Homo sapiens: one gene and its partners. The protein of the gene in region 1 purifies or fractionates together with the protein of each later gene. This does not show direct contact. Each region holds a gene or a part of one and is shown in the gene's direction. Other genes may lie near its edges.

Region 1 (3,500 bases):
TTCAAGCGATTCTCCTGCCTCAGCCTCCTGAGTAGCTGGGATTACAGGCGCCCACCATCAAGCCTGGCTAATTTTTGTATTTTTAGTAGAGGCGGGGTTTCGCCATGTTGGCCAGGCTGGTCTCAAACTCCTGGCCTCAGGTGATCTGCCTGCCTTGGCCTCTCAAAGTGCTGGGATTACAGGCATGAGCCACTGCACTCAGTCTCTTTTGATGTTTTTTAACTGATCAACTAGGTGTGAACAGAACTGGATTTTTTTCCCCGAAGAGCTGAGGCTGACTGGGGTGTGACCTCCTTAGCTGTGTAGACTGCATTGACTCTACTGTGCCTAGAATTTGGACAATGGCCTGAGGGACCAGTATGTGATTTAAGCATAATTAAAAGGTTATACTTGAGGGATAGACCTGAATCTGGAAGACAACTGCTAATTTTCTGGGGCACTGAGGGGTTTTTGTTTTGTTTTGTTTTTTGAGACAGGGTCTTGCTGTCACCCAGTCTGTAGTGCAGTGGTGCCATCTCAGCTCACTGCAACTTCGACCTCCTGGGCTCAAGTGATCCTCCCACCTCAGCCTCCTGAGTAGCTGGGACTATAGGCTCGTGCCAACATGCCTGGCTAATTTTTGTATTTTTTGTAGAGATGGGGTTTCGCCCTGTTGCCCAGGTTGGTCTCTAAACTCCTGGGCTCAAGCAATCCATCCACCTTGGCCTCCCAAAATGTTGGGACTACAGGTGTGAGCCACCACGCCCGGCCAACACTGTTTTTATGAAGGTCTGTTCCTAGAAATGGAAACCATTAAAAACAATGGCAAGAAGACCCTTTGGTTGAGGAATGACAAGATCCAAGAGGAAAACTGGTGTGCCATGGCGCCTTCCAGGCAGAGCAGGTGTTCAGGGCAGAGGCCTGGGCGGGTAGACGGGCTGCAGTTCTGGAGTGAAGACGGTGGAGGCTGCATTCTTTTCTGGCTTTCTGTTGGGATTGGCCTGGGTATGTCCTTTGACATAGCCTGTCACAGGGAATGACCGAAAAGATTAAAGGTACCTGTTCCTCTTCAGGGGCTCTGTTCAACGTAGTAGCCACTAGCTGTATGTTGTTATTTATACTTAAATTAATTAAAGTTAGGAATTATGTTCCTGAAGCATGCAAACCACATGTCTAGTGCTCAGTAGCCATGTGTGGCTAGTGGCCATTGTATTGGGCCATGCATATAGAACATTCCCATCATTGCAGAAAGCTCATCGGGACAGAGCTTCTCTAGAGGATTCTGTGCATTTAGTGAGTGTGATAACCCCATGACTTCTGACATGAAAAATTAGGGAAAATTAAAAGAAGCAGAGGGAGGCAGGGAGTTGGGGAGAGAGACAGTGTGGAGGAGGGGGAGAAGGAGAGATGAGAGGGGGAAATGGGTAGGAGAAGGAGAAAATAGGGAAGGGGGTGCGGAGAGTGAGGAAGAGACTGAGGAAGGGGAGGGGGCTGCACCATGGAGGAGGGGTGAAGGCAGGGGTTGGGAGTTGGGACTGACTCACCTAAGAGGAAATTCAGGTCAGGGACAATCATGGATGGTGGCGGGGGTGGAGGGGGTTAAGCTACCATATCCTCCCCCACCCCCTTTTTCAATATCTTGTTGGGAAATTTGCCTAAATTGAGCAACTGACTTTCCTGATTCAAATTAAGTGCATGATATAGATACATACAGAGCCCCATGTTCCTTCTTGAAATTCTTAATGTGGGGCTATTTTAAAGCAGTCATTTTATTTAAAAAAACAATTAAGTTGCATAAGTGCGGCAGATCTACAGAAAGAATAGAAAGAAACCTCCACAGGCAGGTGATCTAAAATGGGGGTGAAGACAGGCAAAACCATTTTAAGGGTTTTCATTTTTTCTGAGCTGGGAAGACATCAGGAAGAAGGTATACTTAAAGATGCCAAAGAAACTCACTGTTCTTGTATCCACTTGAAAATGGTTTTCTCCTTAAAAACTGTTTCTTGTGAGATTTGAAACATTTTAACAATAACTCAGAGCACACTTAGAAAGAAAGTGTTTGAAACAATAAAACAGTTCATTGCTTGTTCCCTGGTGTCCGAAGCAAGGGAGTCTATCTGACGTACCAGAGTCAACTGGTGACATCCTCCTAAACTAGGCCAGTTTTGATAGGGCCTACTGTGTTTCTAAGAACTTGTAATCTGTGGAATATCAAAAATTTTTTTAAAAAGGTAATGATGAAATGAACCCCAAGGACAGCTTCTGGGGCCTGTGCAGAAAGCAAGGGTAAACAGATAAGCTGAGATAAACAGATAAGAACATGCCTCTGTCCTGAAGTGGCAGAGGCCACAGGGCCACTGGTGCCTCGGCTTCCCTGAGCCTTCTCAGCTGATCTGCTGCCCTGTCCTCTGTTTCCGGCATAGAGGTTACCCTTGGTTTAACGGATGGGGAAACTGAGATGAAAGAAAGGGAGTCAGGGCCGGGTGCAGTGGCTCACGCCTGTAATCCCAGCATTTTGGGAGGCTGAGGCAGGAGGATTGCTTGAGGCCAGGAGTTCAAGACCAGCGTGGGCAGCATAGCAAGACCCCTATCTCTACAAAAAATAAAAAATAAATAAAAATGGCCAGGCGTGGTGGCTCACGCCTGTAATCCCAGCACTTTGGGAGGCCAAGGTGTGTGGATCACTTGCGGTCAGGAGTTCAAGATCAGCCTGACCACCGTGGTGAAAACCCATCTCTACTAAAAATACAAAATTACCTGGATGTGGTGGTGGGTGCCTATAATAATCCCAGCTACTTGGGAGACTGAGGCAGGAGAATTGTTTGAACCTGGGAGTGCCACTGCACTCCAGCCTGGGTAACAGCGAAACTCCGTCTAAAAGGTAAAATAATAATTTAAAAAAAAACATAAAAATAAAAAAAGGGAGTCACTTGTTCAAGGTCACTTGAACTGTGGACTTTTGGGGAGCAATTGCAAGTGGATCTCCCCTATCCTCCAAAGTGCTTTTATGTTCCAAAATAAATCTTTCTTCCTTCCTCTCATAATATATGCCAAAACAACAAACTCTTCTCGAGATGGTAGGGTTTTTAAGTGTAAATACCCATGAGGTTGTAATTGTGGAAGAGAAAGAGTGTCTTTGTCAGATTCCCTGGGAAAAGGGGCAAATTGGGAATATAATTTCTGTCTCAGACCGTGATTTCAGCTGAGGGCCAGTTTGAGAGCAGTTGGGTAAATTAATTCCTACTAGGTTGTAAATGACTGATAGGTGAATCCTCAAAGTAGATGTTTCCATTTTAAAAGTAGAACTGTGTATCAATACAACTGAATCTGTGTTTGAGGACAAGGCAGGATGCCTACATGCCATACATAAGTGCCTGTACACACATAAGCACATGTGTACGTATGTGGTATGATCGCCTGTGGAGGCCCATTACCTGTACTCTCTCGCTGCCTGGGCCCCTCCTACCAACACATCGGACAAGCGAGGCCAGCCTCTTGCGTTATTTTTCCCCTCAGCATGG
Region 2 (3,500 bases), on another chromosome or scaffold:
ATATCAATAACCAATATTTATACACCAGTATAAATCAGATATAAAGGAAAAATTAAGAACTATCATATGATTTAATATATGTTTAAAAATAATGTAAACCATTAATAATATAACTTTCAATTGGCATGATGGCATTAAATATATTTTTCTTTCGTTGCTTTTAAGTTCTTTAGGTACATTTTTTGCATGATTTGTTGTTATATAGCAATGCGCCAAGAGCACCTAGTATTTACTCTTCTACCTCTATGTTGGTCTAAATTATCCATCCCTTTCATGGAAACGGAAGAAAAATAAATATGCCTAGTGGAATTAAGACTCTTTATTTTTATATCTGAAATTGGTAACTTTGTTATTTACTTTGTCAATTTAGTTCAACTAAAGGAAGTTTTAAAAGAGAATTACTGAACATCAATGCATTTTACTAAAAATTCTGAAAGAGCAAAGTTGCCTATTACCTTTGTATACAGTTGTTTGGTTTTAAATCACTTATATGTTTTGCTTTTTTTAAAGAATTTATGATTGCTTAATGCTATTGTAATAATCCACTACTAGTTAGGATATTTGAAAACCTTAATCACCTTTTAAAAAAATATTTTTGTATCAGGACAGTTATTATGTTCCATATTCATGTCACTCATAATCTTTAAGACTCTAGTGTTACTCAGCATTAGGAAACAGTCACACTTGGGAGATGACATTTAGGCATGTTAATACAGAAATATATGCGACTTACAGCAAACCTCAATTTACAGTCATTTTTGGAGGATATGTCCCCTTGTCAAATAAGTGCTTCACTTGAATTCACATAATAGTGAAACCCTGAACGATATCAATAAGGCAAACTGGCAGCCTGAGAAAGTTTGCTACTTTTATTTCTCAAAAAAAAGAGCATGTTTTAAAACAATATTGGCAGCATTGACAGCAAAGTCAAAGGAACGTTTAAAAACTGTGTGCATTTGCTAAGAATTTTCAAATTCAACCTTCAAATTTGAATTTTGGTTGTTTAAAATAACTCATTAAAATTTTGAGCTTTCTTGTGTGATAGATTATATTTATAATCAAATATTGAAACTCAAATTTAATCAAAACTGTGTTTGATGTCTTTATAAGAAAATGAAATGTCACTGAACATAGTACTTAAGGTGTAAGTACTTACGTGTTACCACATGGCTTAATATTTATAAAATAATATTGCATTTTAAAAAGCATGGCAAGGGTAAAATGAGTGAGACAGAGCCCACCCACTCCACCTCATGTGCTCTTTACATTCTCAAGGTTTTAGTTTTGTGAGTGCATATATGTGTGTTTTTTAGTCATATCAATAAATCGTAGTAAAAGATTATAGGAAGTGAGTTTCCAAAGCACATTTAAGTCCACATTTCCTTGAGCAGGCTTTCCTTTTGCATATATTCCTAAAGGGGATAAACAAAGTTTTTGTAGTTACAGTGAAAGCTAAAAGCATGGCATCAGAAAGTGTATGGAGATAGGGAGGTCTTATCATGGGATGTGGTTGCTGTGAGCAGGGCTGCCTTCCCACACAAAGAACAGATTGTGGTTTAACTCTTTCCATGGCCTAGTTTAATGTGCTCGCATAGTAACTGAATTGTTCAAATCTCTGCTGGAAACTACTGATCGGTTTAATGATTTCCTCTATGGCATTTGGGTATGCCTCATGCTGTGATGTAATCATCAGCATTCTGTATTGTTATAAAATTTTGATTCATACTTATTCTGGTGAAGGAACACTTACAGCAATGTTAGAACACTTGATAACTACATTATTGATTGGATGGGACATGTACTCCTTCCATATCTGAAGTGCAAACAGCTAACATGTTGCAGTCTGTAGCATTAAAACTTCGAATTTCTTCTTCAAAATGTATTCATATCTATATTGGATTTTTGACACCTTCTTTGTTAAAGAGTCATTAGTTGTACTTTCATCATATTTACCTAATGGAATTAATTAGTCAGTCTGCTGTTAAATAGAATTTATTCCACGTAGTTCAGGGTGATTAACATGAGTATGTAAATTCTAACTTGGGATACAATCAGAGAGTTATTTTGTCGTTGGGCTGACAGTATAGTCAATATGATCAGAAAAGTGGTGGTGGTGGAAGTTCTCATTTGCTTCAAATCTTGGCTTATTGCGTACATGCGGTGTGCATGTACAGGACGTTAAGCTCTTTCTCTTTGAACAGTAATAGGCCTAAGCTTATAAGACAGGTTTTACCTAAATCAGGAAGTAACGAAACTGACTGCACTGGGAAGTAACTTGAAATATCTGTAGGTAAAGATTATCCACCATTCCTCACTGATCCCCTCCCTTAAAAAAAGGGCTTGGATGAAACAGGCAGGAAAAATGCAGGAGCCTAAAGGTAAACTACTTAATTCAAAAGATTGGTACTCTATAATCTATGTATCTGCAAATTCACATGCACATGCATATATGCACCCACAGTTCTAACTGATAATTCATCTACATGGCAAATGAATTGTATAGATTCCACAAAAGCAGTAACTGACCAGCAGTGTCACCCCACCACAGCATGCAGAGACACAAAGAATGTAAAGTTGGTGCCAAGTTGCCATTTTTCATTGTTCACCTCAGATTGATTTTTAAGAGGTTTAGAATAATTGCTATACTCATGTGATCGGTGAACAAATTAACGGACTCTGTGGGGCTGCATATTCTATAGGGAAGCTGATGGAAGAACATTCATGTAATTTTTGTTTTCCAGTTTGAAAACTTCTATTTAAAAATGCAAGAGTGTGTGTGAGAAAGCAGGAGAGTGCAAGTGTGTGTGTGTGTGTGTTGGGAGCTGGCGTTGGTAGTGTGGGGAGAGAATGCACTGCTCAAAGTATGGAAACCTTCTGTTCAGGACACTGATACGACGAGCTGTGTCCTTTGCCCACTTTCCCTCACTGTATACCGGTTTCTCTAGTTACCACTTTTGGAATGGTGCTGTTTCAGTGTTGGAATGTTGGACGTTTGATAAGAAAATGGATCAAGTTTAATGGCGCATGCTCTTTGTGCCACCAGCAGCCTCTTGCTGAGAGCATGCTCCAAAAGCGGGAACTGTGTGGCATTACACTGAGCATCTATATGCTTTGTGTTTCTGTGCCACAGAGAAGAGAAATGAACTGTGGCATCGCTCCTGCCTTCTGAACAGCTCTACTCCGATTAAAAAAAAAAAATCTCACTGTGTTCTTTGTAAAATGGTACTGCATAGTGTTAGTTGGTCAATCAAATATTGAAATACTATATTAGGTGCCAAGCACCTTAGTTAGTTGCCTATATTTTAAAGAATGTAGAATGCATGGCATTGGGGTGGAAACAAGGGGGATGGGGCCAGAGTGTAATACAAAATATAAACCTTATTTCCTTTATAGGAGGGAGAATTGACCTGTGAATTTTGGTGGAAAGGGGACAGCTGGGCATACTTTACTTTCTTCTTGTCCTGTTATTTTGATAATTTTAAATAAGAAAGGAATGTTAT
Region 3 (3,344 bases), on another chromosome or scaffold:
CCCAAATGCCCTGGGGCCGCCACTCCTGGGTGGGGGTGAAGCCTGATGAGACCGTCTGTACCTGCAGCAGATCCCACATGGCTGTGTCCTTGTGATGGGGAACATTATCGACTGCAAGTTGACACCAAGTGGGTGGGCAAAGTTGATGTCCATGATAAAGGTAAACCCAATCTCCCACCCGACCTTCCTGTCTTTGACTCTCTGCTCTCTCCTCCATCTGTCTCATTCTTTTTTTGTTCTCCTTTCTCCTACAGAGCAAGCAGATATTCCCATTTTTTGATATTCCCTGTCAAGGTTTATACACCAGTGACTTGGAAGAAGATACTAGAATCTTACAATACTTTGTGTCTCAAGGCTTTGAGTTCTTCTGCAGCCAGTCTCTGTCCAAGAATTTTGGCATTTATGGTATGGTACAGGCAGAAGAAGGGAGGGTCTGTTGCTGAAGTGGTGCTGCGCTCACAGCACAGTGATGTTTTTGATATCTCATCCTTGGGAGGGAGCCAAGGACTCTAGGGAGAGCACTATAGAAGCAGAAGTGGGGAGCACTGAGCTAGAATTTGGTTCTGTTACTAAATCTAGTAACAGAACCCAACCCAGCTTGGCTTGGATCATTTCACCCCCTCAGGCCTCTGTTTCCTCAACTATAAGATGAGAGGGTGGGGCTGGCATGGTGGGTGACACCTGTAATCCCAGTTGACACCTCCTAATCCCTCCTTTGGGAGGTCAAGGTTAGGTGATCACTTGAGGCCAGGAATTCAAGACCAGCCTGGGCAACACACCGAGACCCGGTCTCTACAAACAATTAAAAAAATTAGTCGGGCATGGTGGTACACACCAGTAGTCCTACCCACCCGGGGGGCTGAGGCAGGAGGATTGCTTAAGCCCAGGAGGTAGAGGTTGCAGTGAGCTATGATTCCACCATTGCACTCTAGCCTGGGCAACAGAGAGAGATGGTCACTTTAAACAAATAAAAATAAAAATAAAAATAAAAAAGGAAAGGAAAGGAAAAAACAGGAGAGTAGAACTTAGTGATCTTTCAAATTCCTTCCTCCTTTAAGACTCTGACTTATGGGTACTTTTGCTGGAAGGAGAGCCTCTGGCAACTTCCCGGAGCCTGAATATCACCCTGGCTGGGCTGCAATGAGGGCCTTGTGGTTCAACCCTTTCTTCTGCAAGGTTGGGGGTTGAGATCTAGGTGAAGGCCTTGGGAGTGGAGGAAGGGGCTGAGGCTGAGGCTGTCTTCCCAACACTGCAGATGAAGGAGTGGGGATGCTAGTGGTGGTGGCAGTCAACAACCAGCAGCTGCTGTGTGTCCTCTCCCAGCTGGAAGGATTAGCCCAGGCCCTGTGGCTAAACCCCCCCAACACGGGTGCACGTGTCATCACCTCCATCCTCTGCAACCCTGCTCTGCTGGGAGAATGGTAAGGGTGAGGGCTGGAGCAGGAAGGGATGGGAGAGGCCCTGGGTGCCTGCAGACCTGCTGATCTGCAGGATTCGGCAGGGTGCTTCTCTCCTGCCCATGTGGCCTTTTTACTCCATTCATTCATCAACATTTACTAAGGACCTGATGTGTACCAATGGCGGTGGCTATGCCAAGGGTTGCCTTAGGGGACAGAGTGATAGGACATTTGTTTTGCACCCAGGCCAATGAGTTATATGAACTCTTCCAGATTGCTTGGGGAGATAAGAGAGCATCAGGGGCTTGCAACTCTGGCAAAATCTGCCTGGGAGCCTCCCTGGTTTGCTTAAATGAATATGAGATCAAACCTCCCTCCCACTCATAATCATCCCAGAGCCTCTGGCACTCTGTTGGAGACCTTTGAAGGTAAGAAGAGTGGACTGGCAATGAGGGAGGTTTGAGGGCAAGGGGGACCTCACACCCTCCTTTCTCATTGTCCTTCCTTGGTAGGAAGCAGAGTCTAAAAGAAGTTGTAGAGAACATCATGCTAACCAAGGAAAAAGTGAAGGAGAAACTCCAGCTCCTGGGAACCCCTGGGTCCTGGGGTCACATCACCGAGCAGAGTGGGACCCACGGCTATCTTGGACTCAACTGTAAGGGTCTAGGGGGCTGGTGTCCCCCCTTTCTGACCTTTGGCCTGTATTTGAGCATTAAACTTCACTGACTAGGTGACCAGTTCCTAGCTTCACTCCAGATTTTGATTCTGTCCTCTGGAAAATGGGCTGCTTTAAAGACACTTCTGGACCCCCAGAAGTACCGACACTCCCTATCCTTCATAAACCAGCCTGGGTGCCCGGTGCAGTGGCTCATGCCTGTAATCCCAACACTTTGAGAGGCCGAGGCGGGTGGGTCACCTGAGGTCAGGAGTTCGAGACCAGCCTGGCCAACATGGTGAAACCCCGTCTCTACTAAAAAATAAAATATGAAAATTAGCCGTGCATGGTGGTGCATCCTGTAATCATAGCTACTTGGGAGGTTGAGGCAGGAGAATCGCTTGAACCTGGGAGGCGAAGGTTGCAGTGAGCCAAGATTGCACCATTGAACTCCAGCCTGGGCAACAAGAGCAAAACTCCATCTCAATCAATCAATCAATAAAAAAATAAGAAAATAAACCAGCCTGGGCTAGAGGAGAATTCGAGATGGCCAGTCTCGAGATCTGAGACCTTGTCATGATTTTAGCCCAGCAGGTGGAATACCTGGTCAGGAAGAAGCACATCTATATCCCCAAGAACGGTCAGATTAACTTCAGCTGTATCAATGCCAACAACATAAATTACATCACTGAGGGCATCAATGAGGCTGTCCTCCTCACAGAGAGCTCAGAGATGTGTCTTCCAAAGGAAAAAAAAACACTGATTGGAATAAAACTTTAGTCTTTGCAAAAATCTTGTGCTGATTATTCATTACTACAATTCATTTCTTTGCTTATTTATGAAGCAGTGGTCTGGCCTCAGTACAGAGAAAGAGACAGAGAGAAAGAGAGAGAGAAAGGCCCAGAGGGGAAGGGTGTATCTACCTTCATTGGCCATCTCATATTTATTGAGCACCTACTACATTAAGGCCCTGAGCTGGCCGTGAAAGGGAGTACAAAAAACAGGTAGAAACCAGCCTGTTTTCTCCAGACACTTACAGTCTAGTTGGGAGACAAGCCTTAGTCACATAAAACACTTAAGTAACATTTTAAGGCTGAATGTGACAGAAGTCAGAATATATAAACAGAAAATGTGCCAGGAATTTAGAAAAGAAATACGTCAAAGTGGGCCAGAATAGATGGGGAGCATCTCATGAGGAGGTAGCACTTGATTGGGATATTGATAGACAGATGAATGGATTGGATGAATAATAACTAATAGAAGCTGGAAGGATATCCTAGGTCAATAACAAC
Region 4 (3,500 bases), on another chromosome or scaffold:
TACTCAAAGGTTTAAAGAAGGCATTCCCTAAAATCTTCATCTCCATCTTTGGATAACAGTTTTTGGTGAACATTTTCTAAGATCTCTGCATATTGACTCAAAAATATGAACTATAAAATTTAATATCAGTGGGATCAACGCGTGTTATTTTGTACTTTGATTTTTTTTTCCACTCAGAAATGTCATTAACTGTAGGTACACATTACGCTTTTAAATTGGCTGCCATAGGCCGGGCGCAATGGCTCACGCCTGTAATCCCAGCACTTTGGGAGGCCGAGGCGGGTGGATCACGAGGTCAGGAGATCAAGACCATCCTGGCTAACACGGTGAAACCCTGTCTCTACTAAAAATACAAAAAATTAGCCGGGTGTGGTGGCGGGCACCTGTAGTCCCAGCTACTCTGGGAGGCTGAGGAAGAATGGTATGAACCCGGGAGGCGGAGCTTGCAGTGAGCCGAGATTGTGCCACTGCACTCCAGCCTGGGCAACAGAGCGAGCCTCCATCTCAAAAAAAAAAAAATAATAAAAAATAAATAGATTGACTGCCATAGTACTCCAGTTGTAAAGGTATGACATCACTTATTTAACCAATATCCTGTTCATTGATATTTAGGTAGTTTTCCACTTGTTGCTATTTTATAAATGAGAAGTTTGATGAACATCCTTATACATACGTATTTGCACACATCCTTGAGAGGTTCCTGGAAATAAGATTGACGGATAAAAAGCAGTGCTTATTGCCGGGTGTGATGGCTCACACCTGTAATCACAGCACTTTGGGAGGCCTAGGCGAATGGATCACCTGAGGTCAGGAGTTCAAGACCAGCCTGGCCAAGGTAATAAAACCTATTTTTGTCTCTGTTAAAAATACAAAAATACACTGGGCATGGTGGCGCACTGCTGTAATCCCAGCTACTTACTCCGGAGGCTGAGGCAGGAGAATTGCTTGAACCTGGGAGGCAGAGGTTGCAGTGAGTCGAGATTGCACCACTACACTCCAGCCTGGGTAACAGAGGTAGACTGTCTTTAAAAAAAAAAAAAAAAAGCAATGCTTATTTAAAATATCATGATTTTGATGACCAGTTAATGTCTTCCTTAGCAGTACTTCAGTGCCTGTTATTATTCCATGTAGAATTTTTTTATTTTTTAGAGACAGGGTCTTCCTCTGTTTCCCAGGCTGGAGTGCACTGGTGTGATCATGGCTCACTGCAGTCTCAAATTCCAGGGCTCAAGTGATCTTCCCGTCTCAGCCTCCCAGGTAGCTGGGACTACAGGCGTGCCACCCCACCTAGCTAAGTTTAAAATTTTTTTGTAGAGATGGGGTCTCACTGTATTGCTCAGGCTGGTCTCAAACTTTTGGCCTCTGGTGATCCTCCCACTTGGGCCTCCCAAAGCACTGGGATTACATGCGTGAGTCACTAGGTCTTGCCCTCCATGTAGAATTTTAACATGGTATTAGAACTTAAAAAGATCTTTAATAATAACCAATATTGGTGGGGCGCGGTGGCTCATGCCAGTAATCCCAGCACTTTGGGAGGCCGAGGCAGTCAGATCATGAGGTCAAGAGATTGAAACCATCCTGGCCAACATGGTGAAACCTCGTCTCTACTAAAAATACAAAAATTAACTGGGTGTGGCAGCATGTGCCTGTAGTCCCAGCTACTCTGGAGGCTGAGGCAGGAGAATCGCTTGAAACAGGGAGGCAGAGGTTGCAGTGAGCTGAGATTGCACCACTGCACTCCAGCCTGGTGACAGAGCAAGACTCCGTCTCAAAATAATAGTAATAATAACAACAACAACCGATATTGGGCATTTGCAATGTGCCAGACAACACTTAAAGCACATCACATATATTAACTCATTTAATCCTATCTATACTCTACAAAACATATTGATAGCCACATCTTATAGGTGAGGGAAGAAATAACTGTGATCCTATAGTTGGCTTAAGTCTTGAGCCAAGATTGAACTGAGACACAGTACAGAGCAGTATGTTCAACAACTGTGTCATGTCATACCTCCCTCCCTGCTCGTGGTGTGGCTGTGTCTGAAGCACTGACTTGATACCAGTTTTTAAAAACCCTTATACTTCAACTAGTAAACTTTTAAGAACAAAACTCCTTTATAATAAAAAGTATCTTTTAAAAAAGAAAACACGCATGTGCACAATAGTTGACAAATATTTATGAAGTGGAGGGTTTGATTTTCCCCTTTTACTCACCTTTCATTTGTACTCCCTCTCTCATCGAAGGAAGGTAGTTTGAGCCATAAGCAACATTTCCAGGTGTCTGAATTTGCCTCCTGCATCCTCCCTGTTTTCTTACTTTAATCTGAGACTAAAAGTATCTGAAAATGCTCTTCATTTTGCAGATCAGTAAATTGAGGCAGTGTCTTGCAATGGTGATTCCAGCATTCCTTTTATCTTAATACCACAGCTGTCGCCATTGCTTGATCAGCAGCTAACCTTTTATCTTTAGAATGTATTTTATACATCCTTTGTTTGGTTTGGTAATGAAGCATCTGATGAAGTGGGCCCCTGAAAAAATCTTTGTTAGTATAGGTATTACTTTAACAAACTAAGGCAATATATAATACATGATTTACTTTGTCACCTCTCTTCCCCCAAATTTTGTAACTCTTGACCATGTCTTAATTGCCTGGTACTATGCTAGAAGTATAGAAATCATTAAACTAGGCTGGGCATGGTAGCTCATCGGTAATCCCAGCACGTTGGGAGGCTGAAGCAAGAGATTGCTTGATCCCAGGAGTTGAAAACCATCCTGGGCAACATGGTGAGACCCTTATCTCTACAAAAATAAGAAATTAGCGAGGCGTGGTGGTGCATGCCTGTAGTCCCAGTTACTCGGGAGGCTGAGGTGAGAGGACCACTTGAACCCAGAAGTTTGATATTGCAGTGAGCCATGATCCAGTGAGCCACTGCACTCCAACCCGGGTAATGGAGCAAGATCCTATCTCAAAAAAAAGGAAGTTGTTTCAATTATATTTTTTGTCATCTCCTCCTTCCCCCATGGTTGAGTGAATACTAGAAACATGAATCCTTTTTGTTCAGACCAGATGTTCTTTAAGAGTTCTTTTCTAGCTGTATGATCCATGATCTTTAAGGTGTCAAGTATTTGAACCATTTGTGAGTACAGTGCTTCTTACTTTGCTGGGCACATTTCTGTGTACTCTTATTATAAACTACACCTCGTTGGCATTTTGGAGCAATGTAAACACTTAATTAACAGTCACCTTAGGCCAGAAGCAGGAGAAGCAAAGATAGTTGATGGCATATTTCAGAAGATAGGTCCAGACTCTCAAGTATTGAATTGTGAGACTTCATTTTATGTTTATTAAGTTATCCTTTGACTTTTCTTTCCCATTGATTTTCTTTCTGTTTATGCCAGGTGAAATGAGAGGCTTCATACAGTTCTGGCTTGTATGCTCTGTGATTTTTGTAGAAGGTGAACATTGGGATGGAAGAGGGGAAAATCACTTTTC

The links.
Region 2: the proteins of GRK5 (region 1) and NFIB purify together in Homo sapiens (affinity purification with mass spectrometry, with the first as the bait; one large-scale study listed by BioGRID). This does not show direct contact.
Region 3: the proteins of GRK5 (region 1) and GOT1L1 purify together in Homo sapiens (affinity purification with mass spectrometry, with the first as the bait; one large-scale study listed by BioGRID). This does not show direct contact.
Region 4: the proteins of GRK5 (region 1) and DHX15 purify together in Homo sapiens (affinity purification with mass spectrometry, with the first as the bait; one large-scale study listed by BioGRID). This does not show direct contact.

Annotation. Positions count from the first base shown.
Region 1 is NC_000010.11:119,214,071-119,217,570, forward strand, and holds part of GRK5 (G protein-coupled receptor kinase 5), read left to right. Parts: intron 1-3,500. UniProt on the Homo sapiens protein: Serine/threonine kinase that phosphorylates preferentially the activated forms of a variety of G-protein-coupled receptors (GPCRs).
Region 2 is NC_000009.12:14,307,642-14,311,141, reverse strand, and holds part of NFIB (nuclear factor 1 B-type), read left to right. Parts: intron 1-3,106; exon of another isoform or gene 3,107-3,219; coding exon of another isoform or gene 3,220-3,234; intron 3,235-3,500.
Region 3 is NC_000008.11:37,933,781-37,937,124, reverse strand, and holds the end of GOT1L1 (putative aspartate aminotransferase, cytoplasmic 2), read left to right. Parts: intron 1-67; coding exon 68-160; intron 161-254; coding exon 255-405; intron 406-1,255; coding exon 1,256-1,421; intron 1,422-1,670; exon of another isoform or gene 1,671-1,825; intron 1,826-1,909; coding exon 1,910-2,052; intron 2,053-2,638; coding exon 2,639-2,832; 3' UTR 2,833-2,844; downstream 2,845-3,344.
Region 4 is NC_000004.12:24,578,055-24,581,554, reverse strand, and holds part of DHX15 (ATP-dependent RNA helicase DHX15), read left to right. Parts: intron 1-3,500.